Homo sapiens: one gene and its partners. The protein of the gene in region 1 purifies or fractionates together with the protein of each later gene. This does not show direct contact. Each region holds a gene or a part of one and is shown in the gene's direction. Other genes may lie near its edges. The genes, in order: SLCO6A1, NAP1L4, UFD1, DDX18, GTPBP4, CTSH and FAF2.

Evidence for each region.
Region 2: the proteins of SLCO6A1 (region 1) and NAP1L4 purify together in Homo sapiens (affinity purification with mass spectrometry; one large-scale study listed by BioGRID and IntAct). This does not show direct contact.
Region 3: the proteins of SLCO6A1 (region 1) and UFD1 purify together in Homo sapiens (affinity purification with mass spectrometry; one large-scale study listed by BioGRID and IntAct). This does not show direct contact.
Region 4: the proteins of SLCO6A1 (region 1) and DDX18 purify together in Homo sapiens (affinity purification with mass spectrometry; one large-scale study listed by BioGRID and IntAct). This does not show direct contact.
Region 5: the proteins of SLCO6A1 (region 1) and GTPBP4 purify together in Homo sapiens (affinity purification with mass spectrometry; one large-scale study listed by BioGRID and IntAct). This does not show direct contact.
Region 6: the proteins of SLCO6A1 (region 1) and CTSH purify together in Homo sapiens (affinity purification with mass spectrometry; 2 studies listed by BioGRID and IntAct, with this or other methods). This does not show direct contact.
Region 7: the proteins of SLCO6A1 (region 1) and FAF2 purify together in Homo sapiens (affinity purification with mass spectrometry; one large-scale study listed by BioGRID and IntAct). This does not show direct contact.

What each region holds. Positions count from the first base shown.
Region 1 is NC_000005.10:102,370,853-102,374,319, reverse strand, and holds the end of SLCO6A1 (solute carrier organic anion transporter family member 6A1), read left to right. Parts: intron 1-825; coding exon 826-968; 3' UTR 969-983; intron 984-2,193; exon of another isoform or gene 2,194-2,196; 3' UTR 2,197-2,546; downstream 2,547-3,467.
Region 2 is NC_000011.10:2,982,181-2,986,283, reverse strand, and holds part of NAP1L4 (nucleosome assembly protein 1-like 4), read left to right. Parts: intron 1-4,103. UniProt on the Homo sapiens protein: Acts as a histone chaperone in nucleosome assembly.
Region 3 is NC_000022.11:19,455,055-19,459,157, reverse strand, and holds part of UFD1 (ubiquitin recognition factor in ER-associated degradation protein 1), read left to right. Parts: intron 1-1,018; coding exon 1,019-1,087; intron 1,088-2,239; coding exon 2,240-2,305; intron 2,306-2,523; coding exon 2,524-2,571; intron 2,572-3,389; coding exon 3,390-3,478; intron 3,479-4,103. UniProt on the Homo sapiens protein: Essential component of the ubiquitin-dependent proteolytic pathway which degrades ubiquitin fusion proteins.
Region 4 is NC_000002.12:117,821,191-117,825,293, forward strand, and holds part of DDX18 (ATP-dependent RNA helicase DDX18), read left to right. Parts: coding exon 1-106; intron 107-459; coding exon 460-560; intron 561-671; coding exon 672-871; intron 872-956; coding exon 957-1,071; intron 1,072-3,378; coding exon 3,379-3,518; intron 3,519-3,749; coding exon 3,750-3,911; intron 3,912-4,103. UniProt on the Homo sapiens protein: ATP-dependent RNA helicase that plays a role in the regulation of R-loop homeostasis in both endogenous R-loop-prone regions and at sites of DNA damage.
Region 5 is NC_000010.11:994,477-998,579, forward strand, and holds part of GTPBP4 (GTP-binding protein 4), read left to right. Parts: intron 1-1,452; coding exon 1,453-1,556; intron 1,557-1,629; coding exon 1,630-1,766; intron 1,767-2,731; coding exon 2,732-2,832; intron 2,833-4,103. UniProt on the Homo sapiens protein: Involved in the biogenesis of the 60S ribosomal subunit. Acts as a TP53 repressor, preventing TP53 stabilization and cell cycle arrest.
Region 6 is NC_000015.10:78,920,576-78,924,678, reverse strand, and holds the end of CTSH (pro-cathepsin H isoform a preproprotein), read left to right. Parts: intron 1-1,560; coding exon 1,561-1,686; intron 1,687-2,473; coding exon 2,474-2,549; 3' UTR 2,550-3,621; downstream 3,622-4,103. UniProt on the Homo sapiens protein: Important for the overall degradation of proteins in lysosomes.
Region 7 is NC_000005.10:176,485,894-176,489,996, forward strand, and holds part of FAF2 (FAS-associated factor 2), read left to right. Parts: intron 1-461; coding exon 462-596; intron 597-3,057; coding exon 3,058-3,134; intron 3,135-4,103. UniProt on the Homo sapiens protein: Plays an important role in endoplasmic reticulum-associated degradation (ERAD) that mediates ubiquitin-dependent degradation of misfolded endoplasmic reticulum proteins.

The sequences.
Region 1 (3,467 bases):
AAAGAAAAATAGGCCAAGCATGGTGGTGGCTCCTGTCTGTAATCCCAGTACTTTGGGATTTGAAGGCAAGGAGATCGCCTGAGCTCACAAGTTTGAGAGAGCAACATGGCAAAACCCCGTCTCTACAAAAACTATAAAAATTAGACAGGTGTGGTGGCACATGCTGAAGTGGGAGGATCGCTTGAGCCGGGAAGGTCAAGGCTGCAGTAAGCCAAGATCGTGCCACTGCACTCCAGCCTGGGTGACAGAGTGAGACCCTGTCTCAAAAGAAAAAAAAAAAAGAATTAATTTAAAAAAATTGAAAAAGAATTAATTAAATATTGCATCCAATATTCAAGTACATTTGTATAATGCTTGTAATGTTGTAATGTATTAACTTTCTGCAGCTTGAAACATGAAAATGAAAAAACCTGCAAAATTAATGAACTTTTCTGTAATATTTGTTTTATTTGAAAAATGATGAATATTTCAAAAAGAGCAAAGCTGCATGAAATGACTTAGCTCTGGTTCCTATTGATAGCTAAGTTTTGAAAGTCAGAATTTATATTTCATGTTTCAGAATTAACACAGTCTATGAGGTAATAGCACACCTTGCACTTGGGAAGGGGGTAATATGTCTAAGAAATCTAAAACATATTATAAACATTTAAAAATCTCCTTTAAGTAACTTAATATAATTTTATGGCATTAATTGCATTCTAAAATTGGGAAATTTATACCTTTATAGGTGAAATATGCTTACCTTTCTTTGGTAAATAGCATTTTTGCCTACATTTTTGTTCTAAATACATGGACATATCTGATCATTGCATTTTTTAAATTTAGGTTTTCTTTGCAAACTATGCACTATCATCTTCACTACTATTGCATTTTTCATATACAAACGTCGTCTAAATGAGAACACTGACTTCCCAGATGTAACTGTGAAGAATCCAAAAGTTAAGAAAAAAGAAGAAACTGACTTGTAACTGGATCATCATTGTGTAAGAATTACACATTGTCAATCTATCAATGAAATATTAATATTAATAAAATTTAAAGTAATAATAATGTAATTACATGTTTAACAAATGTGCTTCATATAATTCTATATATTTTATTATATTTTGAGTGCAAATATAATAATATAGTCTGTGTTTAAAATTTTTAAAAATATAAAATACACATTTAATACTTTCAATGAAAGATAATACTTTGATTGAAAGAGATTGAGTGAAAATAGGAAAATACACCTAGGTTAATTTTAACTGACGTGATAGCCCATTAGTTGTTGGCCTTTGCTATTTGGAATTAATTAGGTTCCCTTTTTAGCTTATTCTTAGTACTTTTGATTTGGGCAGTAGATATTTATTTCTCCATTTTTCTAAATAAAAGTATATTTGCCACTTAAGTTCATATAATTAAAGTTGAAATTAAAGTTATATTTATTTTCCAAAAAGGACTATTTTAAACCTTTTAAAAATTAACATTTTATTTATCTATGATTTGACATACAGAGGTTTCCTCAGAAAATTTCTTTGGTTAATTGACCAGTTTATAATAAATATTTTGATGTTTCGTTAATCTTAGTAAACATAAAATTCAATATACTCATATACTTCTACCTGTTTTTTGTTACCTTTTTCCTTTTTTTTTTTACCTTCACTTGGATTTTATTGATAAAGACTAGCTGATAATCTGAGTTGAAACCCACTTTTCTGCTTGCTTTTACACTTCATTTTATAATTAATCGTAATTATTTAATGTGAAGAAATATTTAAATGTAGAAAATGTGTCAACTATTTATAGATTTTTTAAGCTAAAATGCATTTGTATAGAGATTTTGTTATAATTTTTTATACATTATTGTACATCAATCGAAATTAGATTTTCCAAATATTGTATAAAAATCAGATTGTTGTGGAACAAGGTTCTCTACAATGTTTCTTTGTTTTCTTGGGAGAAGTGATAATAGCTGACAAAATTTCTCCTCTGTTATTAACATTAGTCAATGACCCTATGTGGATGGGTAGACATTGCCCTATTCATGGTCGTGGCTAGCAGAAGAAAATGTGAAGCAGGGAATATTCATATCTTACTACACATTTTTATTTCCTGTTGTATATTTTATTTCAACATGCATTTTAAAAACCTATAAACTAGTCTTCATGTAAAACTCTACTTGATTGCTTGACTCTTCTCTGTTTGAACCAGCAGGATTGCAGATCATTTGAGGATCAGAGTGTGAAAACGAGTTTCTCTTTTACAGATTCTCCAAGATTTGTTTCTGTGCCCAACTTTCAGAAGAGGAAAATCACACATTATGTTTACATAAGTAGCAAAAATATATTTATGGTGATCTGCATTTTCATAATAAAGTGTCCTATTGTGAAACATTTCTGATAATGTTTTTAATGTATGTAGAATTTTTAGGATTTACTGGGAGAATTAAAGTTTAATAATTTTAGATTATTTACATTTCTTCTTAATATTCTGCTGTCTAGAAATATTAAAAATTATACAACTAGGAAATAAAGTAAAATAATAACATTCAAAGCCACTTTGAACATGCTTGTACAGTGTGTTTGTGGGGTGTTTGTGTGTGTGTGTGTGTGTGTATAGATACATATTACCTGTTTATGTTTCTCTTGCTTTCTTTTTTTTCAGAAAATAAATCAGTGAAGGTATAATAAAAATTATGGATTGGGAAGTACTGTTGAAACTTTAAATTTAAATATAGATTTTTGCTATTACAGAGTACGTGTTTCTGTATCACAAACTAATTCATGGAGGATTGATAAACAGGGAAGTAATGTAAATATAACTCAGAAGTTCTATTGGTTAATTCCAATTTAATACCTCTTTAAGTAATCAGGGGAAGTTTTTCACTATTATAGAGAAGATCTTAGCAATAAATTAAATCTTAAAAAATGCTAAAAATCCCACAGAAGTGCCTTCCTTTGGAGTCAATTTTGAATGAGTTAATGCCATCAAGGTTCATTATACTTTTGAGAGTATTAATGTACCTAAGGATACTGTAAGTGCAGGTGAAGAAGCTGCAAAGATACTTCTAAATATTGGAATTCTAACTTTGATGAAACTGGCCTCTTTTTGGAGTTCATATCCTCAAGGACCTACATTTTAAAGGAGGAAGGTGAGCCCCAGCATTTAATACTACAAAGGACTGACTATGGTGGTGGGTAAAAATGCTAGTGGAGGTTTAACTGTGCTAAGGTGTGTTAAGATTCTGATTGTTTTTGTTAGAGCTCTGGTTACAAAGTTGAATATTTTTGAATGGTTTAACCTTAACAATATTTTCTCCATAAGCCTACTCAGTCCTGGTGCTTAATTTTGCCTAAAGGGACACTGTAAATGAATGCATATGGAAATGCTCATATTTTAAAATTGATGATAATTTATTTGTGCTCTTCAAGTTGCACTTGTTCTGAGTTCTTAAAATGATTGCTATAAAAATCTCAGGTTCTTAC
Region 2 (4,103 bases), on another chromosome or scaffold:
TCCTGCCTCAGCCTCCTGAGTAGCTGGGACCTCAGGCGTGTGCCACCATGCCCAGCTGATTTTTGTATTTTTAATGGAGATGGAATTTCACCACGTTGGCCAGGCTGACCTCGAACTCCCGACCTCATGTGATCCGCCCGCCTTGGTCTCCCAAAGTGCTGGGATTACAGGCGTGAGCCACCGTGCCTGGCCATGGCCCAATTTTATAGTTACTCTAGCTATGGAGTAGATGTTTTCAGTTCAAAATTAGGAATTTAAGGTTATATTTTGTTACAAAAATCTTTAAAAATTTCATAAGAAAACAGTTGTTTGGGGTACAAAGAAATTAATCCATAAATAGGATTGTTACAGTGACTAATATAAATAAAAGAACATTTGTGTAATCATGGGAATTATTTTATTTTATTTTTCCTCGACCCAATTAACTGGGTGAAAATTTGCTTGCCAGTTCAGATTTAGAATTGTAGACACAGTTAAAGTTTTTGACCTTGGGAGGGAACCTGAACTTTAGAAAACTTACAACATTCTTTTGCCTGGTATCCCTTTCATAATTTAACTTGATTGTCTTTTATTTATTTTTAGTTATTATTTATTAACACAAAATTATATTTATGATGTATAATGCGATGTTTTGAAGTACTATACATTGTGGAATGGCTAAGTCAAGTTAATTCACATTAGGTGGTATACTGATTCTGACAAGAACACTTAACATCTACTCTCAGCAATTTTTCAATTATGTGATACATTGTTGTTAACTATAGTCACCAGGTTGTATAGATCCCTTGATTGCCTTTTAAAAGTGAGAGAACCTTCTGGATGAGTCTTCGGGCTGTGGTTTTATAAGACTAGTATTAAACTGAACATAACATTTAAAACAAACAGATATTTATTTTCCTCAAACCTGTATATTTGATAGTTCCTTATAACTTTCTGTTTTAAGGGTGATAGGGATTGATAAACAAAAATAATTTGTGGTGCTGAAACTTGACTGAACTCTAGCTTGTTTATAATACCACCTCTCTACATTGTCTTTCCTTATTCAGGTTGAGCACTCCTGATCCCAAAATCAAAAATCCAAATGCTCCAAATTCTGAAACTCCGTTAGTGTTGACATTAATGTTACAAGTGGAAAATTTCACACCTGACTTCACGTGATGGATCACAGTTAAAACTTTGTTTCATGCACAAAATTATTTAAAATATTGTATAAAATTACCTTCAGTCTATGTGAATAAGATGTGTGGGAAACGTGAATGAATTTCATGTTTAGATTTGGGTCCCATCCCCAAGATACCTGATCATGTTTATACAAATATTCTAAAATCTGAAACACTTCTGGTCCCAAGCATTTCAGATAAGAGATACTCAACCTGTATAAAGGGTGCAGTGTTTAAAGTAACTTGATTTGTTGGTTTCATATCAAGGAATAGATGTAGTCTATATGCATGGCAGTTACAAAAGTGAAAAGAGACCTGGCCTGCTGTTATGTACTAGGAAATTTGTCTCCATTAACAGTTTCTCAGGTAGCCACTGTCTTCTAGTTTGTGGATGATGAAACTGAGGTCCAGAGGAAGGTTATGCAGAAGAGCATGAGTGGGAATGAGTATGGGGAAGTAGACAGGGCCTGAATTGGTAGGAATGTGTATTCTGCAGAAGGTGACGGGGGACCATTGAAGTGTGTTTGTTAGTTTTTTGTTTGTTTGTTTTTTGAGACAGAGTTTCGCTCTTGTTGCCCAGGCTGGAGTGCAATGGCGAGATCTCGGCTCACTGCAACTTCCGCCTCCTGGGTTCAAGAGATTCTCCTGCCTCAGCCTCCTGAGTAGCTGAGATTACAGGCATGCGCCACCATGCCCGGCTAATTTTGTATTCTTAGTAGAGACGGGTTTCTCCGTGTTGGTCAGGCTGGTCTCGAACTCCTGACCTCAGATGATCCGCTCGCCTCGGCCTCCCAAAGTACTGGGATTACAGGTGGGAGCCACCACACCTGGCCTTTGTTAAAGGGTTTTTAAATCTTCACTGACTAGGGCTGGGTTTGGGTTGCTGCTGTGGTCGTGGTGGTGAGCATAGCCAGCCATTGTAGGGTTTGTTGCCTTTTTTTTTTTTTTTTTTTTTTTGAGGCAGGGTCTTGCTCTGTTGTCCAGGCTGGAGTTCAGTGGCGCAGTGATAGCTCACTGCAGCCGCCAGGCCTCCAACTCCTGGGCTTGAGTGTTGCTTCTGTCTCAGCCACTCAAGTAGCTGGGACCAGAGGCATCAACCACTGTGTCCAGCCTCATTTTTTTTTTTTTTCTTTTTGTTTTGAGACAGTCTCACTCTGTCTCCCAGGCGGGAGTGCAGTGGTGTTATTTCAGCTTACTGCAACCTCTGCCTCCTGTGCTCAAGCGATTCTCCTGCCTCAGCCTCCTGAATTGGGACTACAGGTTCACACCACCATGCCTGGCTAATTTTGTTTTTTTTGTTGTTTTTGTAGAGACGAGGTTTCCCCATGTTGCCCAGGCTGGTCTGAAACTCCTGAGCTTCAGGTGATCTGTGATAGGGGTAGGATTTGAAACCAGGCTGTTCAGTGTGTGTCTGTCTTGTTCTAGGCATTGAGTTCTGGGTTGGTTGGTTCTTTAGTCAAAATTATTTTCTTTTTTATTGTGTAAATTCATTATTTTTTTTCTATCCTTGATTTAGCACTTTTTTTTTTTTCCAGAATACCGTGTTGGGTTTAACTTAACTGCCTTGTCATCTTGTTAACAAAAATTGTATTAAACAGCACATGCCGGGCTGGGCATGGTGCCTCTGTCCTATAATCCCAGCACTTTGAGAGGCTAAGGTGGGAGGATCACTTGAGGCTAGGAGTTTGAGACTGCAGTGAGCTATGATCCTGCCACTGCACTCTAGCCTGGGTAACAGAGTGAGACTGTGTGTCTCTTTAAAAAAGCACAGCCTTCACTTAAATGAAAATTGAGTGAATCATTTTATCAATGGACTCTGTTAAGTTGGAACAGGTACCATTCCATGGGAAGGTGAACCTCTTTGGCTCATGTCCTAACACAGGTGGTTTATGCTTTCAACAGATATTTATTATGCCAGGAACTGTTAGGGGCTCTGGGGCTGCATAGTGAACAGCATCAAAAGGGAGTATTGTCACACTCCATTTGTAGACAAAATGGATTTCTTGGAGATGCTGCTGAACAGTAGGATTTCAACCCTGACTAAGCTGTTGCTTGTCACTTGTTCCAATAGCAGCAACAGGTTTTTTGTTTTTTGTTTTTTTTTGAGATGGAGTCTTGCTGTGTTGCCCAGGCTGGAGTGCAGTGGTGCAATCTTTGCTCACTGCAAACTCCGCCTCCTGGGTTCAAGCAGTTCTCCTGCTTCAGCCTCCCAGTTGCTGGGATTACAGGCGAGTGCCACCATGCCCAGCTAATTTTTGTATTTTTAGTAGAGACGGGGTTTTACCATGTTGGCCAGGCTGGTCTTGAACTCCTCACGTCGTGATCTGCCCGCCTTGGCCTCCCAAAGTGCTGGGATTACAGGTGTTAGCCCCCAGGCCCAGCCTAGCAGCAACAGAATCTTTAATGAGCAAGTAGAAACAGCCAGAAGTGAAGTGGTGTTGGTACTAGGGAAAGGTTAGAAGGAGTCAGATTTGAAACACGAATGCATGTTTTACTAGCCGTGTGACTTTCAATTTGGCACCTCACCTTTCCAAGCCTCAGCTTCTTTTCGTGTAAACTGAGGATAGTCCCTCCCTAGTGGAGTTTCTCTTGGTATTAAATGTATGAAGTGCCTGACATGTAGGTCCCTTGCTAGTATAGGAGGTGCTGGAAATGAAGTATGTGTCTTTACGAGGTGTTACTGATAGGGTGATGACAACAAGAATCTGTCCATTAAACTGACAGTGTTAGATGTTTCCAGGTTAGTAGGCTTCTTTCAGCAATTAGTGTGTATGTGTGGGGTAAGGAAGGTGCTATGAGATACATTTCTTAGGCAATAGAGAGCTTCAATTAAGTAGCCAAATTACAGTTGATGTTATTGTGTAACTGTTTTGGCAGTATGTATCAGAATCCATTCATGCTCTTTGACCCAGAAATGCTACTGTAGCGGTCCTGCTATTGCCA
Region 3 (4,103 bases), on another chromosome or scaffold:
CCCTGACCATGGTTCTACCTAGAATTTTTCAACTTTATTATGATGCAAACATGATACACATTCAGTAAAAACCATACTTTGAATACCTATACAACCATTCTGTTTTTGATCTTCAGTACAGTATTCAATAAATTACATGAGTTATTCAACATTTTATTATAAAATAAGCTTTATAGTAGATGATTTTGCCCAACTGTAGGCTAATGTATGTGTTCTGAGAATGGTTAAGGCAGGCTGCACTATGATGTTTGGTAGGTTAGGAATATTAATACATTTTTAACTTATAAGTTTATGGGACTTGGTTCCATCATAAGTCAAGGAGCATCTGTACAGTGGTATTAGTGACGTTGGTATGAGCATTCTTAGAATTTTCTCATTGGGTATAGCTAGTTATTTACTTAGAATAAATTTCGAAGGCCGAGTGCGGTGGCTTATGTCTGTAATCCCAGTTCTTTGTGTGGCCGAGGTGGGCGGATCACCTGAGGTCAGGAGTTCGAGACCAGCCTGGCCAACATGGTGAAACCCCATCTCTACAACAATACAAAAATTAGCCAGGTGTAGTGGCACATGCCTATAGTCCCAGCTACTAGGGAGGCTGAGGCAGGAGAAGTGCTTGAACCCTGGAGGCGGAGGTTGCAGTGAGCCAAGATCGCACCACTGCACTCCAGCCTGGGCGATAGAGCGAGATTCTGTCTAAAAATAAATAAATAAAATAAATAGTAAAGTTCCAGAAGTGAACTTTCCAGGTTAAAGGTTGTTAGTGTCTTTTGCAGTTAGCTGTATAACTACCTTGTCTAATTTGAACCATATCTGGGGAACAGCATCTCTTCAGCGATGGGCACAGGGCAGCCTGTCCCTTATGGCAGTGTTGTCACAGCAAGAAGTGCAGCTGTAGGTTGTGTCATGGGCATGAATGCTGTGTCATTCGCAGGAGCCAGTAGAGCCACAGTAACATGGACAGCGACAGCTCCAGTGCTGCCAGGAAACCATCCAACTGATTTCTGTGTTTGCCCCACAGATCTACGAACTGCGTGTGATGGAGACCAAACCCGACAAGGCAGTGTCCATCATTGAGTGTGACATGAACGTGAGTGGCTCTGTCCAGTTACAGTGAGCCTGGGCCCTGGGAGGATGGGCAGTTGGTGACCACTGCAGGCCAGGGTGTCAGGAGGGCATCAAACAGCCCCTGGGACTCTGGGTAAAGAGGAGGAAGATGCTGTCAGAACATCATGAGGAGACTGTGACCTTGTGATCTATCTCAGGGCCAGTTGGGGCAACAGAGTTTGCTGCCAGTGCTGCCATGGTTAGCTCTGACCCGTTGAGGAGTGAATATTCTTTTTTTTTTTGAGACTTAGTTTCACTCCTGTTGCCCAGGCTGGAGTGCAGTGGTGCGATCTTGGCTCACTACAACCTCCACCTCCCAGGTTCAAGCGATTCTCCTGCCTCAGCCTCCCGAGTAGCTGGGATTACAGGCATGTGCCACCAGGCCCGGCTAGTTTTGTATTTTGGTAGAGACAGGGTTTTACCATGTTGGCCAAGCTGGTCTCAAACTCCTGACCTCAGGTAATCCACCCGCCTCGGCCTCCCAAAGTGCTGAGATTACAGGTGTGGGCCACCGCGCCTGGCCGAGGAGTGAATATGCTTAAGAGCTAAGGAAGCGTACTGAACCTTCTGAGTAGGAATGAAGTGCTGATGCACACAGCATCCTGGTTGTATTACTAGGGAATACTGCTGAGCAAAAAAAGCCAATCCCAAAAAGTTACTTCGTTATATAACATCCTCAAAGTGACAGAACTTTCGAAATGGAAGACAGACCAGTGGTTGCCAGGGCTTAGGACTGGTGGAGGGGGCTGGGAGACAGCTGGGTATGGTTATAAAAAGACAACATGGGCAGTCCTAGTGGTGGTGAAACTGTTCTACATCTCAACTGTGGTGGATACATGCCCCACACAGTGATTACATTGTGTAGAACTAAAGATACCCATGAACAAAAACATGTAAAACTGGGGAAATCTGAATAAGAGCAGTGGGTTGTGCCAGTGTTGATATCCTGGCAGCAATACTTTACTGTAATTTTGTAAGATGCTACCGTTGGGAAAACTGGGCAAGTGTACAAGGCATCTTTTGTATTATTTCTTAAAACTGCATGTGAATCTACAGTTGTCTCAATTAAAAACAAAAAAGGAAGCCAAGGGTGGTCATGTCTCAATATTTTACTTTTAAAATCCTGGAAACACAGGTGGACTTTGATGCTCCCCTGGGCTACAAAGAACCCGAAAGACAAGTCCAGCATGAGGAGTCGACAGTAAGTGTTATCCTCAGTGTCCTTTGCTGTCCTGCTGCATGCTGCTTTTGAGTTCCTGGCAGTGGCTCGTGGGTGGCCTCTGCTAGTGTTGGTGTAGTCATATCCTCTGCGTCCCTTCCAGCCATGCTTCCGGGGGACATCCTAGCCGGGGGTGGGGGTGAGAGGGAAGCTGGGTGTCCCCGCTGAGGAGCTCACCTGTTTTTCTTTTTCCCTGTCAGGAAGGTGAAGCCGACCACAGTGGCTATGCTGGAGAGCTGGGCTTCCGCGTGAGTACCAGACCACTTGACTTATATTGCTGTGCCCTCTGCTCCTTGAAATTAGAGCACTCACTCAAGGTGTTCTCCATGATGCTCGATGGACATCAGCAGGGGTTAGGCCTCTGGGTACCTGTGCATATGCAAATCTGCCACTCGCTCAGTTACCAAACCCTTTTGTATCCACTCTCTCCTGGAATCTTCCCAACAGCCCCATAAGGCAGCCCAGATTTTTAAGAATTTCTAACCTACCGAAGAGTTTAAATAGTACAGTAGACATATACTGTTCCCTTAGGTTCACCAAAAGTTACCACATTTGCTTTCTCTCTCTTGTAAATCATGTTTCCTTTTTTCTTTGCCTGTACCATGTAGGTTGCAAACATGACCCTTAGCATAACTACTGGCAAGGCTCCATGGGAAACAGGTGGAGGTGGTTCATGTGTGGGCACTGAGGTGGCAGGAGGTGCCAGGAAGCAGCAGAGAGGGCAGAATGATGGGAAGCTGAGCTATGGGGCAGTCACAACAGTAGCCTTAGCCCACCCATAGAGCTTGAACTGGGTGGCCCTGCAGAGGCAGGGATCAGGTCTTTTAACCCAACACTGACTGCTGGCTGCCCTTGGCCAAGTGGCTGTCTTCAGCTCATGGCCACCCCCTGAGGAACTGGGCAGAGTTCTTAGCTGCCAGCACCCCAGCAGTTGAGGAGTCAGGGCTTCAGTCCTGAAGGGGTCTGCACAGCACCCCCAGCTCACATCCCTGCAGTGATCTCCAAGCAAAGGACATATCGTCCTCACACTTGGGCTTATTATATGACTCACCTACTTCCTGTCTAGGCTTTCTCTGGATCTGGCAATAGACTGGATGGAAAGAAGAAAGGGGTAGAGCCCAGCCCCTCCCCAATCAAGCCTGGAGATATTAAAAGGTAGGTCTGTCCTGGCTCTCCTCCAGGACAGGAGGAGGATCTGTGCCAGCCCGCTGGGGTCGGGCAGCCTCACCCCAGTTCTGGAGACAAAGCCTGGGTCAGTAGTCTCCCAAGGGACTAAAACCCTTAGCTGCTCTCCTTGGTGGGGTGGAGCACAACATGCCCCTCCTTCCACAGTGCCACCCCCAGTACCACTGTGGTCCAGCCTCTCTCCATACCTCTCCATACCCCCAATTCAGCCTCTTCTTGCCCCCACTGGCTTTCCTAAGATGCGAGTCTGATTAGATCTGTCTCTTACTCAAAACCTTTCTGGTCCCTATTTGGTGATCTGCCTATTTTCCTGTTTTGTGACTTGGAATTATTAATCAGGTCACATTATCTCAGTTCCCCTGAAAGTTCCCTGAGGAGCTACCTCAGATGTGCTTCTGTTGCTGGGTCCGGGGACCCACAGCAGACCCTTCCTCTGGTGGCCATGATGGCAGGGGCAGGGCTGAGGTGTGTCAGTTGTCTGTTGTGTGTGTGAAATCAGAATACTGGAGTGAGAGTCTAGCCACCTCAGGGGGTTCTGTGAAGCTCAGGACAGTGACAGTGAGGGCTTCCCAATCCTTCAGATGACCCCTCTCCA
Region 4 (4,103 bases), on another chromosome or scaffold:
TATGTAATCTTGTCAATGAAAACACTCTGAAGGCAATAAAAGAAATGGGTTTTACAAACATGACTGAAATTCAGCATAAAAGTATCAGACCACTTCTGGAAGGCAGGTATGATTAACATTGAAGCTTAGATATTGGCATCTATTTTTAGAACTAGTAGATGATAAAGAACATACCAGTATATTCTGTTGATTTTGTACTATATGTTGGGTCATGTATCCAGCATACATTAAAGGCTTTAAGTTAATTACTGATGTTTGAAGGAAAGTGTTCGAAAGGTGTTCTGCTTCTGTTGTAGCACAGTTCTGACTTATGATTTCAGTATATAACCCAGGTGATCAATTTCAGCACTGTAGACGTTTCTTGTTCATGTTCTAGCCGTAGTGCCTAAGGTGTGTGTATGTAGTACGTCGTAAATGAGTAGGCTAAATGTCTTTCTCCTTTCCCTTTTTAATATTTAGGGATCTTCTAGCAGCTGCAAAAACAGGCAGTGGTAAAACCCTGGCTTTTCTCATCCCTGCAGTTGAACTCATTGTTAAGTTAAGGTTCATGCCCAGGAATGGTAAGCGTTCATCTGCTTGTTTCTGCCATTATTTCACTAGAGGTTTATTGTAGCTGTTACGGACTCAGTGGTGACAGCCACATTTAGACTTCTACCATATATCATTTTTAGGAACAGGAGTCCTTATTCTCTCACCTACTAGAGAACTAGCCATGCAAACCTTTGGTGTTCTTAAGGAGCTGATGACTCACCACGTGCATACCTATGGCTTGATAATGGGTGGCAGTAACAGATCTGCTGAAGCACAGAAACTTGGTAATGGGATCAACATCATTGTGGCCACACCAGGCCGTCTGCTGGACCATATGCAGGTAAGAGATGTAGTGCTTGTCTCATTGTCTTGTATGAAACATAAACTGACAACTAATGGTTGTTCTTTGTCCTTTGTTTTGTTAGAATACCCCAGGATTTATGTATAAAAACCTGCAGTGTCTGGTTATTGATGAAGCTGATCGTATCTTGGATGTGGGGTTTGAAGAGGAATTAAAGCAAATTATTAAACTTTTGCCAAGTAAGTAGGTAGCATCTGCATTTGGTTTGCAAAGTATCTGTTGGAGGTAGATAAGAGTTGTTCCTATAGAAAAACTGTACTAATGCCAGAACTTTACCATAGCCAAGTGAGGTAGTTGTGCCAATTAACCCGAAAGGTAATTTGGAATACAAGCATCAAATGTATTATAACTTGATATAATAGTTTTGCTGTTTTAGAAGTTATAAGGCACGTTAAGCAGTCTTCACATAGGTCCTGTCCTCCACCTCTTGCCCATTCTTACCTCATCTAACATCCCCCAAGAAGCCGCAGATTTTTTGCCTTACTTGTACATACCTTGGTTATAGTACTTGCAACATTATGAACTGGTTATAACTAAGACCATGGTTTCCTTCATTATATAATTTATTTTTAAAAGCTTTGTCAAAGTATAATTATATCTACCCATTTATAATGTACAATTTGATGTTCTTTGATTTGTTTACCACTGTGACATCATCGCTGCAATCAAGAAAATGAACATGTCCATCACAGTCAAAGGTTTCCTCCTGCCCCTTTTCAATTTCTCCCTCCCACCCCTCCTTACACGTATACCTTGTCCCCAGGTGAGTATTGATCTGTTTTCTGCTGCTAGATTAGGTTGCATTTTCTGGAAATAAAGTTGCTGTGAACAGTCATCTACAACTCTTTGTAGAGGCATATATCTCCTTTTCTCTTAAGTAAACCTAGGAGTGTCCTAGTTGGTATATGTTTAGTGTATGTTTAACTTTTTAAAAAACTGCCAGATGTTTTCCAAAGCGGCTGTACCATTTAACATTCCTATGAGCAGTGTATGAAAGTTCCAGTTCCTCCTATTAAGTCTTGACCATCAGGTAATGTTAGCCCCAAGTTTGTTCTCTTTTAAAGTTGTGGTATTCTTGTCCTTTGCTTTTCTATATAAATTTTAGAATTGGTTTGTCAGTTTCTCCCCCTTCCCTCCAAAAAAGTCTCAGATCTTGACTGAGATTTTATTGAATAGAGATTATTGGAGGAAGACAGTATTGAGTCATGTAACCCATAATAAGGTATATCTCCATGTATTCGATATTTTCTCTATCATATTTAGGGGGGTTCGGGATACAGGTTTATTCACATCTTTTGTCAGATTTATCTCTGAGTGTTTCATTAAAATTTCAAGTTCCAATTGCTCGTTGCTTTAATATATACATATATACACACACACATATACACACATATATATGCACACACAGTTGAATTTTATATTGATCTTGTATCTAGCAAGACAGTTAATCCTGTACCGAATGATTATTCAGTATGACTTTCCAGATGACTGTAGCCTTTTGGATTTTCTATATAGGCAATCATGTGCAGATAAAGACAGTTTCACCTCTTTATTTAATTTTTTTTTCCTGCCTGATTGCCCTGGCCAGAACCTCCAGTATGGTGCTGAATAGAAGTGGTGAGAGCAGACATCCTTATCTTGGTTCTGATCTTAGGGGAAAGCATTCAGTCTTTTACCATTAACTACATATGAAGTTAGCTGCAGGTTTTATATAGATGCCTTTTATCAGATTGAGGAAGATCCCTTCTGTTCCTAGTTTGCTGAGGATTTTTAATCAGAAATAGATGGTCAAATGTTTTTTTTCTGTCTGCTGAAATAATCATGTTTTTTCTTTAGTTAACATAGTGAATTGTATTGGTTGATTTTTCAAATGTTGAACCAACCTGCATTTCTAGAATAAACCTGATCCATTTCTAGAATAAACATGAGCCATTATCCTTTTTATATATTGCTGAATTCACTTTACTAAAATTCTATTTCAAATTTTGTATATGTGCTCACGAATTGTATTGGTCCATAGTTTTCTTGTCATGTCATGTCAGGTTTTTGTATAGTGTAATGACTGACTTCGAAGAATGAGTTGACATGTAAGCCCTCTTTTTAATTTATTGGAGAGTTTGTGAATAATTGATGTTTTTTTCTTAAATGTTCAGTAGAATTCACCAATGGAATCCATTTGGGCCTGGAATTTTCTTTACATGAAGGTTATAACTAAAATTTCTTTAGTAGATATAAGGCTATTTAAAGTTTTCCTATTTTCTTCAGTTGTTTGTCTTCAAAGGAGTTTGTCCATTTCATCTAAGTCCTCAAATTTATAGACCTAGTGTTTCATGATATACCCTTTTTACCTTTTGTAATATTTGTAGATTCTGTAGAAACATCATATCTCCCATTTCTGATATCTCTACCTAGAATATTTGTAGTTGTGAGGCAATTGTAAAGATTCCCTAAAAGATTGGGGTTATTTTTATATGTATCTGTTTCAGCACGTAGACAGACTATGCTCTTTTCTGCCACCCAAACTCGAAAAGTTGAAGACCTGGCAAGGATTTCTCTGAAAAAGGAGCCATTGTATGTTGGCGTTGATGATGATAAAGCGAATGCAACAGTGGATGGTCTTGAACAGGTACTTTTTATCAATAACTGAAAACTGTAGGGATCTTACTTGGTGTTTTTATGTAATTGTTGGAAGGATCATTCAGAAAGCAAATGGGTTAATGAACTTTTAAAATGCTGTAGGTGAGGCATGACAGTTTACACACTGTGTTTATCAGTGCTCTTGATGAAATTACACAAGTTAGGAAATGGAAAATGTCCACTTGGTTCATTTGTATCTGTCTGCTTAAACGCTTTCTAGGGATATGTTGTTTGTCCTTCTGAAAAGAGATTCCTTCTGCTCTTTACATTCCTTAAGAAGAACCGAAAGAAGAAGCTTATGGTCTTCTTTTCATCTTGTATGTCTGTGAAATACCACTATGAGTTGCTGAACTACATTGATTTGCCCGTCTTGGCCATTCATGTAAGTGATGATGATGAGCTCATTGAAAACAGGGTATGCTTATTAAATCCTATAGATTGTAGGATTGGAGGTATTGCCCTCTCCTGGAAACATTGTTCTGAGTAGTTTGATCACCACTAGATGATGGATCCTGTGTGGGGGAGCGCTGCTGGGTGTGGAGGGGTATGAGGACTTTCGAAGAGTGCAAGACAC
Region 5 (4,103 bases), on another chromosome or scaffold:
GCCAGGCTGGTCTCGAACTCCTGACCTCAGGTGATCCGCCTGCCTTGGCCTCCCAAAGTGCTGGGATTACAGACATAAGCCACAGTGCCTGGCCAAGAATGAGATTATTCTTAACTGATTTGATATTAGGAAATATTTGATTTTAGCCAACAACATACTTTGATCTACTTAGTATCAGATTTTTGTGGTTCTTTTTAAGAAGTTTTGTCTTTTTCATCCTCAGTGTTATAGCCATCAGAGGTAGGAGAGTTCAAATGTATTAACATTCTATTACTCTTTTTAAAGCCAGGACTAGTTATCTGAGAACAGCTTCAGAGTGGAGGGTTAGATATTAAGTTGTCATTCACTGAATGCTTATTGTCTGTCAGGTACTGTTCTGAGTCCTAGGAATCCAGAAGTGGTAAAGGTTCCTGCTCTCATTCTGGTGGAGAAAAGATAGTAAATAGCATGTCAGATGAATGCAGTGAAGCCATGGAAGGGAGTAGGGAGTATCTGTGCGGGGAGAGGGTGTCAGGCCTGTAGTCAAAGAAGCAGCAGGTGCAGGAGACCCAGGAGGTGGGGCAGGCTAGGGAGGTGAACACTGGGACATGGGATTGGAGGTGGTAGTCAAGGGTCGAGTTTATATGCACTGGTGAGATATCTCAGGAGATGCTGGCCTGGTGATTTAAAATGCATTAGTAAAATGTAGACGACATTTAAATCTATCTGAGATCACCTTGGAAGGGAATGTAGGAAGAAGGGTGCTGTGGGGAGCATGAATGTTTGGGGTAGAGCTGTGAGCACTAGCCAGCACAGGACTTAGAGGGGTCAGACTCTCCACCTAGAAGCTGTGAGGAAAATACCGCAGGCAGGATGCATGGCCAGCCCGCAGCGTTTCAAGAGGTCTGTGAGATAAAAACTGAGAATTGGTCATTGGGAGGTCCTTGGTGAGCTTGTAGGCTGTTTAGATGGAGTGGTGGACACAGAATTCTGGAGAGAGTGGGTTCAAGAGAGGGAGGAGAGGAGAGACACAGTGTGTCTTGGGAGCAAAGAGAGGGAATTGGAAGGATTTTGGGGCTATGGGAATTTTTGATTTTTTTTCCTAAAGATTGAGAAATAACAGCAAATTTTTAGGCTGATGGGAATAGTCAGGTGGAGGGAAGAATTTCTAGTGCTGAGTTCCTGAGCAACAGGAAGGGTACATGCAGGGTCGGGGGCTGGTCATTGCTGGGTCCCACAGCTCTACCACTGCACTGAGAGCGAGGTGGGTGGGAGCCGTGACTGTCGGCACCCGCATCCCTTCTGATGCCTGTTTTCTCAGAGGACTAAATAGACAGGGCCCCTGGCCAGGAGAGGGAACTGGGGAGGAGACACTGCAGGCGTGGAGGGAGAGGGAAAGAAATTGTTCTTCAAGTGGTAGGGATGAAAAACTGCTGGCCCCAAGTGACCGTGGTGTGCTTTTGTTTGTTACAGGATATTCATCCGTTCTATGCTGATTTGATGAATATTCTCTACGACAAGGATCATTACAAGTTGGCTCTGGGGCAAATAAATATTGCCAAAAATTTAGTGGACAAGTAAGGTACTTTTTTCTGTAGTGTCTTTTAAGTTATCGAAAGTGGAAAAAATAATATTTTTTATTTTTTACAGTGTTGCTAAAGATTATGTGCGACTGATGAAGTATGGCGACTCTCTCTACCGCTGCAAACAGCTGAAGCGTGCGGCCCTGGGACGGATGTGCACAGTGATCAAGAGGCAGAAGCAGAGTTTGGAGTATTTGGAGCAAGGTGCTTGTCACGCATCCGCGGGAACCGTGCTAGCATCCTGCTGAGAGGATGCGTCCTTGTTGAGGACTTGAGATGTCTGTTTTTCTTGTATTTTGGAGATGACAGGGTCAGTTATTCTTCCTAGCTTTACCTATGAGAAACAGTAATAGGCTGGTTTTTATTGAAAATAAATACTTACAAATCAATAGCACTGATAAGAAAATTTATATATTTCATATTTAATAGGTAAGGCATACACAAAAAAGTCACGAGAAAATACTGAAAAGTATAAAAACTAAGGTGGCTCATAGTTTATTATTGACTTTTTTATTTTTAAAAACACTTGTATTTAATAGGACTTTCTGAATTAATGTACTAGGATTCTGTTGAAACAATTACTTGCTTATTGTGTGTATTCTTACATGACAAATTATTTTGACTCATTCGGTTTTGTTTTCTCTCCTGCATCTTAGAAATAATTTTTAACAAAATTTGTGATACTTGGATGCCTTGCAGGTGCTTTGCTACAGATCTGTGTGGTCTTCATGATGGCCGGGGTGCCACCCTGGAGCCGTGTTTGTTACAGACGAGGTGGCAGAGTGGCAGTAACCCATGTTGTAGCCCAAACGGCATGGCCTGCAGGCTTCAAAGTGCACTGGTTCCCTAATGTCATCTTGCTAATGAGAATTGTCTGGACACTGCCAGACATGCTGTTGGCCCCACCTGTCACCTAATGAATTAAAACGTGGGCTTAGAAGGGCTGAGGAATATGATTCTTACCAGAGCCAAACTTGGGAGATAGCAATTGAATATACTATGTGTATACTATTACTTTCTGCAACTATTTTCTCCATCACTTTTGCATTACAAAAGTTGGAGTAAGATGAATATCACCATAGGCCTGGACTGTAACTAAGTTGAAAAGAAAATTTAAAGCAAATCTTAAACTTTGAATTTCTTAATTTTTCAATTTGAACTTTTCCTAGTGCGTCAGCATTTATCCCGTTTGCCAACCATTGATCCGAATACCAGGACCCTGCTTTTGTGTGGGTACCCAAATGTTGGGAAGTCCAGCTTCATCAACAAGGTTGGTCTGGTTTTTATCGTAAAGCAAATCATCTGACTATTTTACGTCAGTGTTACTGTATTCTGGCGGCGTGGGATTCAGGATGGCCTTGTAGGTCAGTGTTAACTGTATTCTGACTGCGTGGGATTCAGGACGGCCTTGGTAATAATTTCGGCCTCCGAGTTGGTCCTTGAGTAAAACACTGCCCTGGTCTGCAGGAGTTCCCGGTGCCTGAGCACGCCGAGCTCCTCTTGGTGAGGATTTACTTTGTCTGTATCTACATTTATATTACTATTACAGAAGCCATTACTTTTTGTTCTTGTGTGTGTCCTATAATTTCTAAGGAATTTGAGACATGTAAGTGCATTTTTGTTGACAACTGGGGAGGTTTTCTTGGGTGTTGTTGGCCTGTCCTGGAGTGGCTATGCCAGCGGGGCTCCGGTGGCAGGTGACACTCACCCAGCTGGGGTCTTCCCGTCTGCAGCTGCATCTGAGTGATCTGTTACCTTGGTTGCTGTGTCAGCTTTCACATGAAATCGTATGTGGTCTAGTAGAGGGACGGTGCCGAGTCGCTCTTTCCCTGGGTGAGCTCACTGACTAGGATAAGTGTAACATTTAAGGGACTCGGTCATTTGTTGCTTCAGGAAAGTTTGGCTGAGTTTCAGGGACTCAGGAAGAGGCAAAGCAACATTTAAAATGTGAATTTACAACCAGCAACAGCTCATGTGCCAAGAAAATGGTCAAATTTTATGGCTTACTCAGTGCCAAGATCACTTTATTTTTAATTAAAAAAATTTTTTTCTTTCTTTTTGTTGAAACTTTTTCTTTTTGAGACAGGGTCTCGCTCTGTTGCCCAGGCTGAAGTGCAGTGGTGCAGACATGGCTCGCTGCAGCCTCAACCTTCCGGGCCCAAACAGTCCTCCCACCTCAGCCACCCAAGTAGCTGGGACCACAGGTGCACGCCACCGCACCTGTTTAATTTTTTTATTTTTTGTGGAGATGGAGTCTCACTGTGTTCCCCAGGCTGATCTCAAACTCCCGAGCTCAAGCCATCCTCCTGCCTCAGCCTCCTGAAGTGCTGGGATTACAGGCATGAATCACTCCACCCTACCTTAAGATCACTTTTGCTTTGAAATAGATTTGTGAGTTTTATTTTGTCTACAGGTTGCTGTGACATGGTGACCAGCAAAGCTCTGCAGGGTCCTTGCTGATTTTTCAAATGCTTGTCAGCTCTGAACCTGCCCTGAGCTCTGAGCCAGTGCTCTGTGGCCGATTTGGTGGCCACTGCACTG
Region 6 (4,103 bases), on another chromosome or scaffold:
GATTTGAAGACGTAAAATAGGGAGAAGAGTAGCTGCCCTCACACACTAGGATCCTGTGCTGGAGGAGTCACCCCAGGCTTCTTCAGAAAAACCAAGCTTTAGCCTCTTTACTATGGGGTTTCTCTCACCCACACCTTTTCGCCTGCCTGGTTTGCAGCCTCATTTCCCTCCCTTCATCAGTTGCTGCCCGTTAACGTCACTCACTAATGTCACTCACGTCTGTGCTCTCCTCTCCCTCCCTGAGGCTCTGCCCTGGTCACCATTGTCCTTGGACCCCCTAACCCCCCACACACTGTTCCAGCTTCCACTGGGAGCTGTCTGCCTTCTGAAACACTCCTCTTGCCAACGCCAACCTTTGAACACACCAGTGTCCCTGCTTTCCCAGGGTCCTACCCTGAGGGGGACCCTCATGATCTGGTCCTCCCTCTTTTTCCACACTCATCTGCCATCAAACCCGTCCCCGCCGTTCCACCCTGCAGCCCCCACCCCAGCCACGCAGAAGGGTTCGCAGTTCCATGGGCGTTCCCCGCCTCCACAGGGAGCCTTCCCTGACCCACCCTGCCCACCCTCCCCCCCCCCCCCGCTGGGTTGGATCCCCCCCACCTCCTGGGGGCTCTGTCGCCCTCCCACTGTCAGAGCCCTCAGGCCACTGTAGAGAAGCAGCCTCTTTGCCAACCTGCTCCCTGCCAAACAGGGCTTCCAAGGGACAGTTATGCATGCTGCCTGGATCCCGGCACCTGGCCCTGGCGCGAGCCTATGGCCCACTTACACATCAGCTGAATTCACACCTGACCACTGCAGTTTGTTCTCTTGAATTTCTTGGAATTTCCTTATGGAGGCTAGTTCACTTTTGTAAACAGAAAAAGTTGTATTTTTGCCATAGGTATAAAGTAATATTTAATAAATGCAGTGGCAACAAAGCAAAGCTGTGTTAAAGTCTGCCAGACACTGTTGCCTACAGAAGGTGCAGCAGGAAGGTGGCTCTCTCCTTGCCAGGAAAGAGGGAGTAGAAAGTGTCAGGGGTGAGACACGGGCCAGCACCATATGGAGATTCTCCTGACAGAAGCAGAAGAACCAAAAGAACTGAAAGGGCCGGGTGCGGTGGCTCACACCTGCAATCCCAGCACTTTGGGAGGCCGAGGTGGGTGGATCACCTGAGGTCAGGAGCTCGAGACCAACCTAGCCAACATGATGAAACCCTGTCTCTACCCAAAATACAAAAATTAGCTGGGTGTGGTGGTGCACGCCTGTAATCAGGCTACTCGGGAGTCTGAGGCAGGAGAATCGTTTGAACCCTGGAGGTGAAGGTTGCAGTGAGCAGAGATTGCACCATTGCACTCCAGCCTGGGCAACAGAGTGAGACTCCGTCTCAAAAGAAAAAAAGAACTGAAAGGAGTTCTCTCACGGAGACTAAATGTGATTACATCACCACCTTACATGCCTCCCTGGTCCGCTGTGGGGAACATTGCTCTAAAGCGCTCAAAGAGGCGTTGTTGGATGGGACTGTCATTGCTTTTATCCTTCCCATATGATCACCTCTTTTTGAATTTTGTTTTCCAGTACTTCCTGCCATAAAACTCCAGATAAAGTAAACCATGCAGTACTGGCTGTTGGGTATGGAGAAAAAAATGGGATCCCTTACTGGATCGTGAAAAACTCTTGGGGTCCCCAGTGGGGAATGAACGGGTAAGCAGCTCCCAGGTCCCACTTCTGGGAGGGGGATGTTGCTCAGGCCTGGAGGCCCTGGGGGCATCACTTCCACCTCAGAGTTACGGCTTCCACAGACGAGCTGGTCAGCCAAGCCCTAGGCCAGGCCAGGGGGAAAGGGAGCATGAGAATGTAGCCTCCACATTTCCAAGCCCCCATTTGCAGCCCTCACAGGGCCCCAGGTCTTTAGGACGCTGCAGGGAGAGCAGGAGGCCAGCTGGCTCAGAAGGACTGCTAGGAAAACAGCTCAGAACTTGGAACTCTGCTGGCACGAAATCAGTGTCTGGGAGGGTCCGTCTTTGAGAAATCAAAGCAACAAATGTACCCCTGATCACTGACAGCCCCTCCTTCCGGGAGAAAAGGCTGGCATGGGGCGGCCTGGGTGTATATGCTGCTGTGCCTTTGTCCTGTCCTCCCAGATTCCATGTCCTTGTCTGAAAAGGAGAGCTTTCCTGTTCCCTCGGGCTCCTGGTGATAAAATAGCTGTGTGAGGGCCCGGCCAGGGCTAAGAGGGGGCCCTCGGTAAATTTTCGGGAGAAGTGGGATATGGATCATTCATTTGGCAGCTAAGGAGAGGGAAGAATGAATTCTTCACAAAGTCAGGTCCGTGATTTGCCGGTGATCAAATAAGCCGAATGCTACTGTTTTATGAATAAATTTAGAGGGTCTCACCCCTGAAGTCAGCTCTTGGTGAGCAGCAAAACATTCTAGAAAGGCCTGTGGTGGGGAGACCGCCGGCCGGGCCTCAGCTCCTCTTTCTGCCCAGGTACTTCCTCATCGAGCGCGGAAAGAACATGTGTGGCCTGGCTGCCTGCGCCTCCTACCCCATCCCTCTGGTGTGAGCCGTGGCAGCCGCAGCGCAGACTGGCGGAGAAGGAGAGGAACGGGCAGCCTGGGCCTGGGTGGAAATCCTGCCCTGGAGGAAGTTGTGGGGAGATCCACTGGGACCCCCAACATTCTGCCCTCACCTCTGTGCCCAGCCTGGAAACCTACAGACAAGGAGGAGTTCCACCATGAGCTCACCCGTGTCTATGACGCAAAGATCACCAGCCATGTGCCTTAGTGTCCTTCTTAACAGACTCAAACCACATGGACCACGAATATTCTTTCTGTCCAGAAGGGCTACTTTCCACATATAGAGCTCCAGGGACTGTCTTTTCTGTATTCGCTGTTCAATAAACATTGAGTGAGCACCTCCCCAGATGGAGCATGCTGGTCCTGGGCCATGACTCAAACCAGGTCTGTCCTCGCCACTCAGTCTCCCAGGAGGGAGGCATCAGGGGGTGTCCAGGCTCTGGCTGGGAGGATGGTGGGGGTGCTGGCGGTATTATCCACCAGATGGGGTATCCAGGATGAAGAGCAGGCTTAATTTGAGATCTTGACTATTTGTCCCAAACCTGAGTGGAGAGGTGGGGAGGAAGGAGAAAAACGGGCCAAGCTGCGGCAGAGGCAGGATTCAAACCCACAATGTCAGCCCAGAAGCCTGTACTTCTCTGTGTGGCCTCCCCAGTCTCAGCTGCCTACTCCTACTCAGACTCTGCCCCCCACCTCCACATGAGACTGCCCACCCCTTCCTCACCAACCCCTTATTTATTTCAAACGTGCCCAGATGCTCCTGTCGTTTCCACACCATCCCTTCCCTTATCTTGCCTTTTGAGAAATCTTGATCTCTGTTTAGAGGGCGGCCATGAAGTTGCTGCTGCTTCCTGAAGCCTCCGGGCTCTGGGATGTCTGTAGAACAAGCTGGAGTCCACCAGCTCTTTGTCCTATGGCTCACAGACTTTCTTAATGATAAAAGCTGTCATCTTATTTGGGCTTCCTGAAAAGCTAAAGGCTTGAGAATATTTGAAAAATATATATGTTCATGATAAGGCTTATTTAGATAATGCAAATATAGTTTAATTTATTAGAAAATTCTAGTAACATAAGACCACAACTGTATAAGACAAAAAACAATCACCTTGCTAGGCATGGTGGCTCACGCCTATAATCCCAGCACTTTGGGAGGCCGAGGCAGGTGGATCACCTGAGGTCAGGAGTTTGAGACTAGCCTGGCCAACATGGTGAAACCCCGTCTCTAATAAAAATACAAAAAAAAAAATTTAGCCAGGAGTGGTAGTGCACACCTGTAGTCCCAGCTACTCGGGAGGGTGAGGCAAGAGAATCGCTTAAGCCTGGGAGATGGAGGTTGCAGTGAGCTGAGATCATGCCACTGCACTCCAGCCTCAAAAAAAAAATAATAATAATAATAGACTTCATTGGATGGAATTCTATTCTAGATTTAAAAAAAAACTAACATGAAATGAAAGCATAATTTCTTTTTCTTTCTTTTTTTTTTTTTTTTTTTAGATGTAGTCTCACTCTGTCACCCAGGCTGGAGTGCAGTGGTGTGATCT
Region 7 (4,103 bases), about 74 Mb from region 1:
TTTCAGAGAGATGGAGCTTGGATCAGACCGAAGTTTCTCTGCTGCAAGCCCCTTCATCAGATGCCACTCATCAGGACTGCTTCACTGCATAACTCCAGGGGTACTGCCTACATTGTATTCTCTGAGGATGGCTTTTCTTGGGATTGTACAGTGAAGCACTTTATATCCCAGCCACCCTAAATAATACATGCCATCTGAATCCAGGCAGTACGCTTGCTGCATAAATGTAGCTTCCAGACAAGTTTCCTCGTCTCCTCTACCATGGATGCATTCTGGAGTGACAACTCCAGTTGCCTCCAAGTACAGCCGGTTAACAGGCCCATGAAGGTGCACTCCTCAGTGACCTTTTGGTGTATTCATGACCATCCTGTTTTGGAATACCACGCAATAGTTGCCTCACCTCTTGTTGTTGGTTGATTTGAGCATCGCTGAAACTCTTGCCACTCCGTTTTCCTTCTCAGGCTGCTGTACAGGACAGATTGAATGAGCAAGAGGGCGTACCTAGTGTTTTCAACCCACCTCCATCACGACCCCTGCAGGTTAATACAGCTGACCACAGGATCTACAGCTATGTTGTCTCAAGACCTCAACCAAGGGCAAGTTATTTCATAGCTGGGATTTCCCCCTTTTTTATTTATAAGTATATCCACTTGGTTATATTGATCTCCCTGTGACAGGAGCAAAACAAATATTTAGAATGTAAACCTGTTAGTTAGACTTGGCCCGTTGGGTGTATTATTTTGCCTTGATTCCTCAAGGAATTGTTACAGAAACTACTCATTTTTTTTTTCTTTTCTTTGCCAGTTATTTGGAGAGTGTTTTCTGCCTCTTAAGTTACAATTTGTTTACTCAAGTTCTTTGTTGCTTCAGTTTACTTAATCTTAAACCAGTTTTGAGGAAGTATATGGAATCTTTGTAGGAGCTTTGGCCACGTCTTTGAAATTAGCCTTGAAGGGCTAGTAGCAAGGAGGTGGTTCACTTAAATTTGACAGACATTTAAGAGTACTCCAATAACCTGGTATCTTGCTACTAGGGATCCAGACATGAATAAAGAGCCAGTCTTCCCATTTCAAATTCAATTTCTCACAGTCTATTGAAGGAAGTCAGATGTGTACACTGATAATGAATTCTAAAGAACTGCTTGGACTTTCTTTTTCTTACCCCTGGGGTTATACTCACCTCTTATACTTTTATACTTGCATTTAGAATCCTAAGAAAACACTCCCTTTAACATTGCAGCAGTTAGAATTTACTCCATCATCAAGCCTTTTTGTGGAGTACTTGATTTTTGTTGTGTTTTGTTCTGTTTGAGACAGGGTCTCACTCTGTCGCCCAGCCTGGAGTGCAGTGGCATGATCTTGGCTCGCTGCAGCCTAGACCTCCCGGGCTCAAGCAGTCCTCCACCTCAGCCTCCTAAGTAGCTGGGACTACAGGTGTGCGCCACCATCCTGGTTAATTTTTGTATTTTTTGTAGAGATGGGGTCTTGCTATGTTGCCCAGGCTGGTCTTGAACTCCTGAGCTCAAGTTATCTGCCCACCTCAGCCTCCCAAAGTGCTGGAATTACAGGCTTGAGGCACTGTGCCTGGCCTACTTGATGTTTTAAAACATGTTTCTAAGTAGTGCTCTGTGGTTTTCTGAAGTACAGTAGCAGATTCCCATGTCAGCCATGGGGCTCCAGAGCTTCCTGGCCACAGACACAGAAAGTGTCTCAGGTTAACACAATGTGACAACTATGAAATGCTTTATAAACTATAGAGCCCTGGATGTATGCTAGTTTTAATAATTAATAACAGCAATAATAATTAGCATTATTACTAAGATAAGCAGCTATATGGGGATTTGTCATTGTGGTTAATATAATTATTTAATGTTTATATACCAATGTCCAAGGTTAGTAATAGTGATTATCTTTCTTGCTATTTCTATATACATTATTTTAGGTTTTTATGTTTGTTTGTTTTGTTTTGGGACAGAATCTCCCTCTGTTGCCCAGGCTGGAGTGCAGTGGTGTGATCTCAGCTCACTGCAACCTCAGCTTCCCAGGTTCAAGCGATTCTCCTGCCTCAGCCTCCTGAGTAGCTGGGATTACAGGCGCCCACCACCGCGTCTGGCTAATTTTTGTATTTTTAGTAGAGACAGGGTTTCACCATGTTGGCCAGGCTGGTCTCAAACTCCTGACCTCAAGTGATCTGCCTGCCTTGGCTTCCCAAATTGCTGGGAGTACAAGTGTGAGCCACCACACCCAGCTAATTTTTGTATTTTTAGTAGAGACAGGGTTTTACCATGTTGACCAGGCTGGTCTCGAACTCCTGACCCCAGGTGATCCATCCGCCTCAGCCTCCCAAAGTGTTGGGATTACAGGCGTGAGCCACCAAGCCTGGCTTATTTCTGTATACCATATTTTGATGTGTAAATCTAAAAAGGAAAGAATGAGTGTGTATCATTTGGGGAACATTAATTTGCAATTGAATTTGACAAGTCTATAAGTAGCTGCCAAAAATAAGTATTAAGGCAGTTTTGGTTTTTATTTGTTTGTTTGTTTTTTTGAGACAGAATCTTGCTCTGCCCCCAGGCTGGAGTTCAGTGGCGCGATCTCAGCTCACTGCAACCTCCGCCTCCTGGGTTTAAGCAATTTTCCTGCCTCAGCCTCCCTGAGTAGCTGGGACTACAGGTGCATGCCACCATGCCTGGCTAATTTTTGTATTTTTAGTAGAGATGGGATTTCACCGTGTTGGCCAGGCTGGTCTCAAACTCCTGACCTCAGGTGATCTGCCCCACTCAGCCTCCCAAAGTGCTGGGATTACAGGCAGGAGATACAGCTCTGGACCTTAAAGCAGATTTAATACAAAAATTCTGCAAAAAAAAATGATAGTAAGATGAAATAAGACCAAAGATGGTGGCACTTAGAAGGATGAGGTGGCCAGGAAGAAGGAACTGTACTTTAGAGGAACAAATCACATGGAAGGACCAAAAAGAGTGAGAAAATCTGACCTAGCCATTTGATAAAATATTAGGGATTGAGAGAATTGTCTCTAACTTTGTTTTTGGACTTTCAGGGGCTGCTTGGATGGGGTTATTACTTGATAATGCTTCCATTCCGGTTTACCTATTACACGATACTTGATATATTTAGGTATGTACCTTTGGATTTATGTATTAGTAGAATAGTAAGACTTTGGAGCTGAAATTTAGGCCAAAATAAGCTTTATGCTCTATCAATGTTGACTTACCAATTTGTCATGAGATGGAATACACTTCCCGAACTGTCTTTTAATACAACATACAAGTATTTTAAATTGTTGAAGCATTGGCAGGCATTGTGAAATGGAATTGTTTTTAAATTAGTCTTACCTTTTGTTTGCAAAAACCAGTCTGACTATATTTATTTGTCTCCCCCTCCCCCCCCCACCATATTTGTCACCTCTACACTTCCTAGTTGATGTCCACACCCTTTCCTTTCTAACCACTATCATCTCCTAGCTTCACACTCCTTAGAACTTTCTTCCTCAACTACTTCTCCTCCACCTGACTACTCACAATCCCAACAAATTCTCTTGCTCTGAGATTACCCAGTTTGCCCTTGATTCCTCCCACAATAGTTGGACCTCCCTAGACACTCCTGTTACACCTTTTCTTTCTTTTTCTTTCTTTTTTTGAAACAGAGTCTTGCTCTGTCGCTGTCACCCAGGCTAGAGTGCAGTGCCACCATCTCGACTCACTGCAACCTTCACCTCCTGGGTTCAAGCGATTCTCATACCTCAGCCTCCCAGATAGCTGGGATTACAAGCATGCGCCACCACGCCTGGCTAATTTTTGTATTTTTAGTAGAGACAGTAGAGATGGAGTCTCATTTTGTTGGCCAGGCTGATCTTGAGCTCCCGGCCTCAAGTGATCCACCTGCCTTGGCCTCCCGAAGTGCTGGGATTGCTGGCATGAGCCACCATGCCTGGCAGCTTCGGTACCTTTTCACTTTGCTCTGGCAGCCCCTAGGTTGCAAACACTGGAACCCTTTTATGTATATACCCACTTGCTTCATACCTTCACCTTTCTTCTAGCTTCCTTCATGTACCATTAAAAGAGCTCATCATTGGAAGCTACAGAG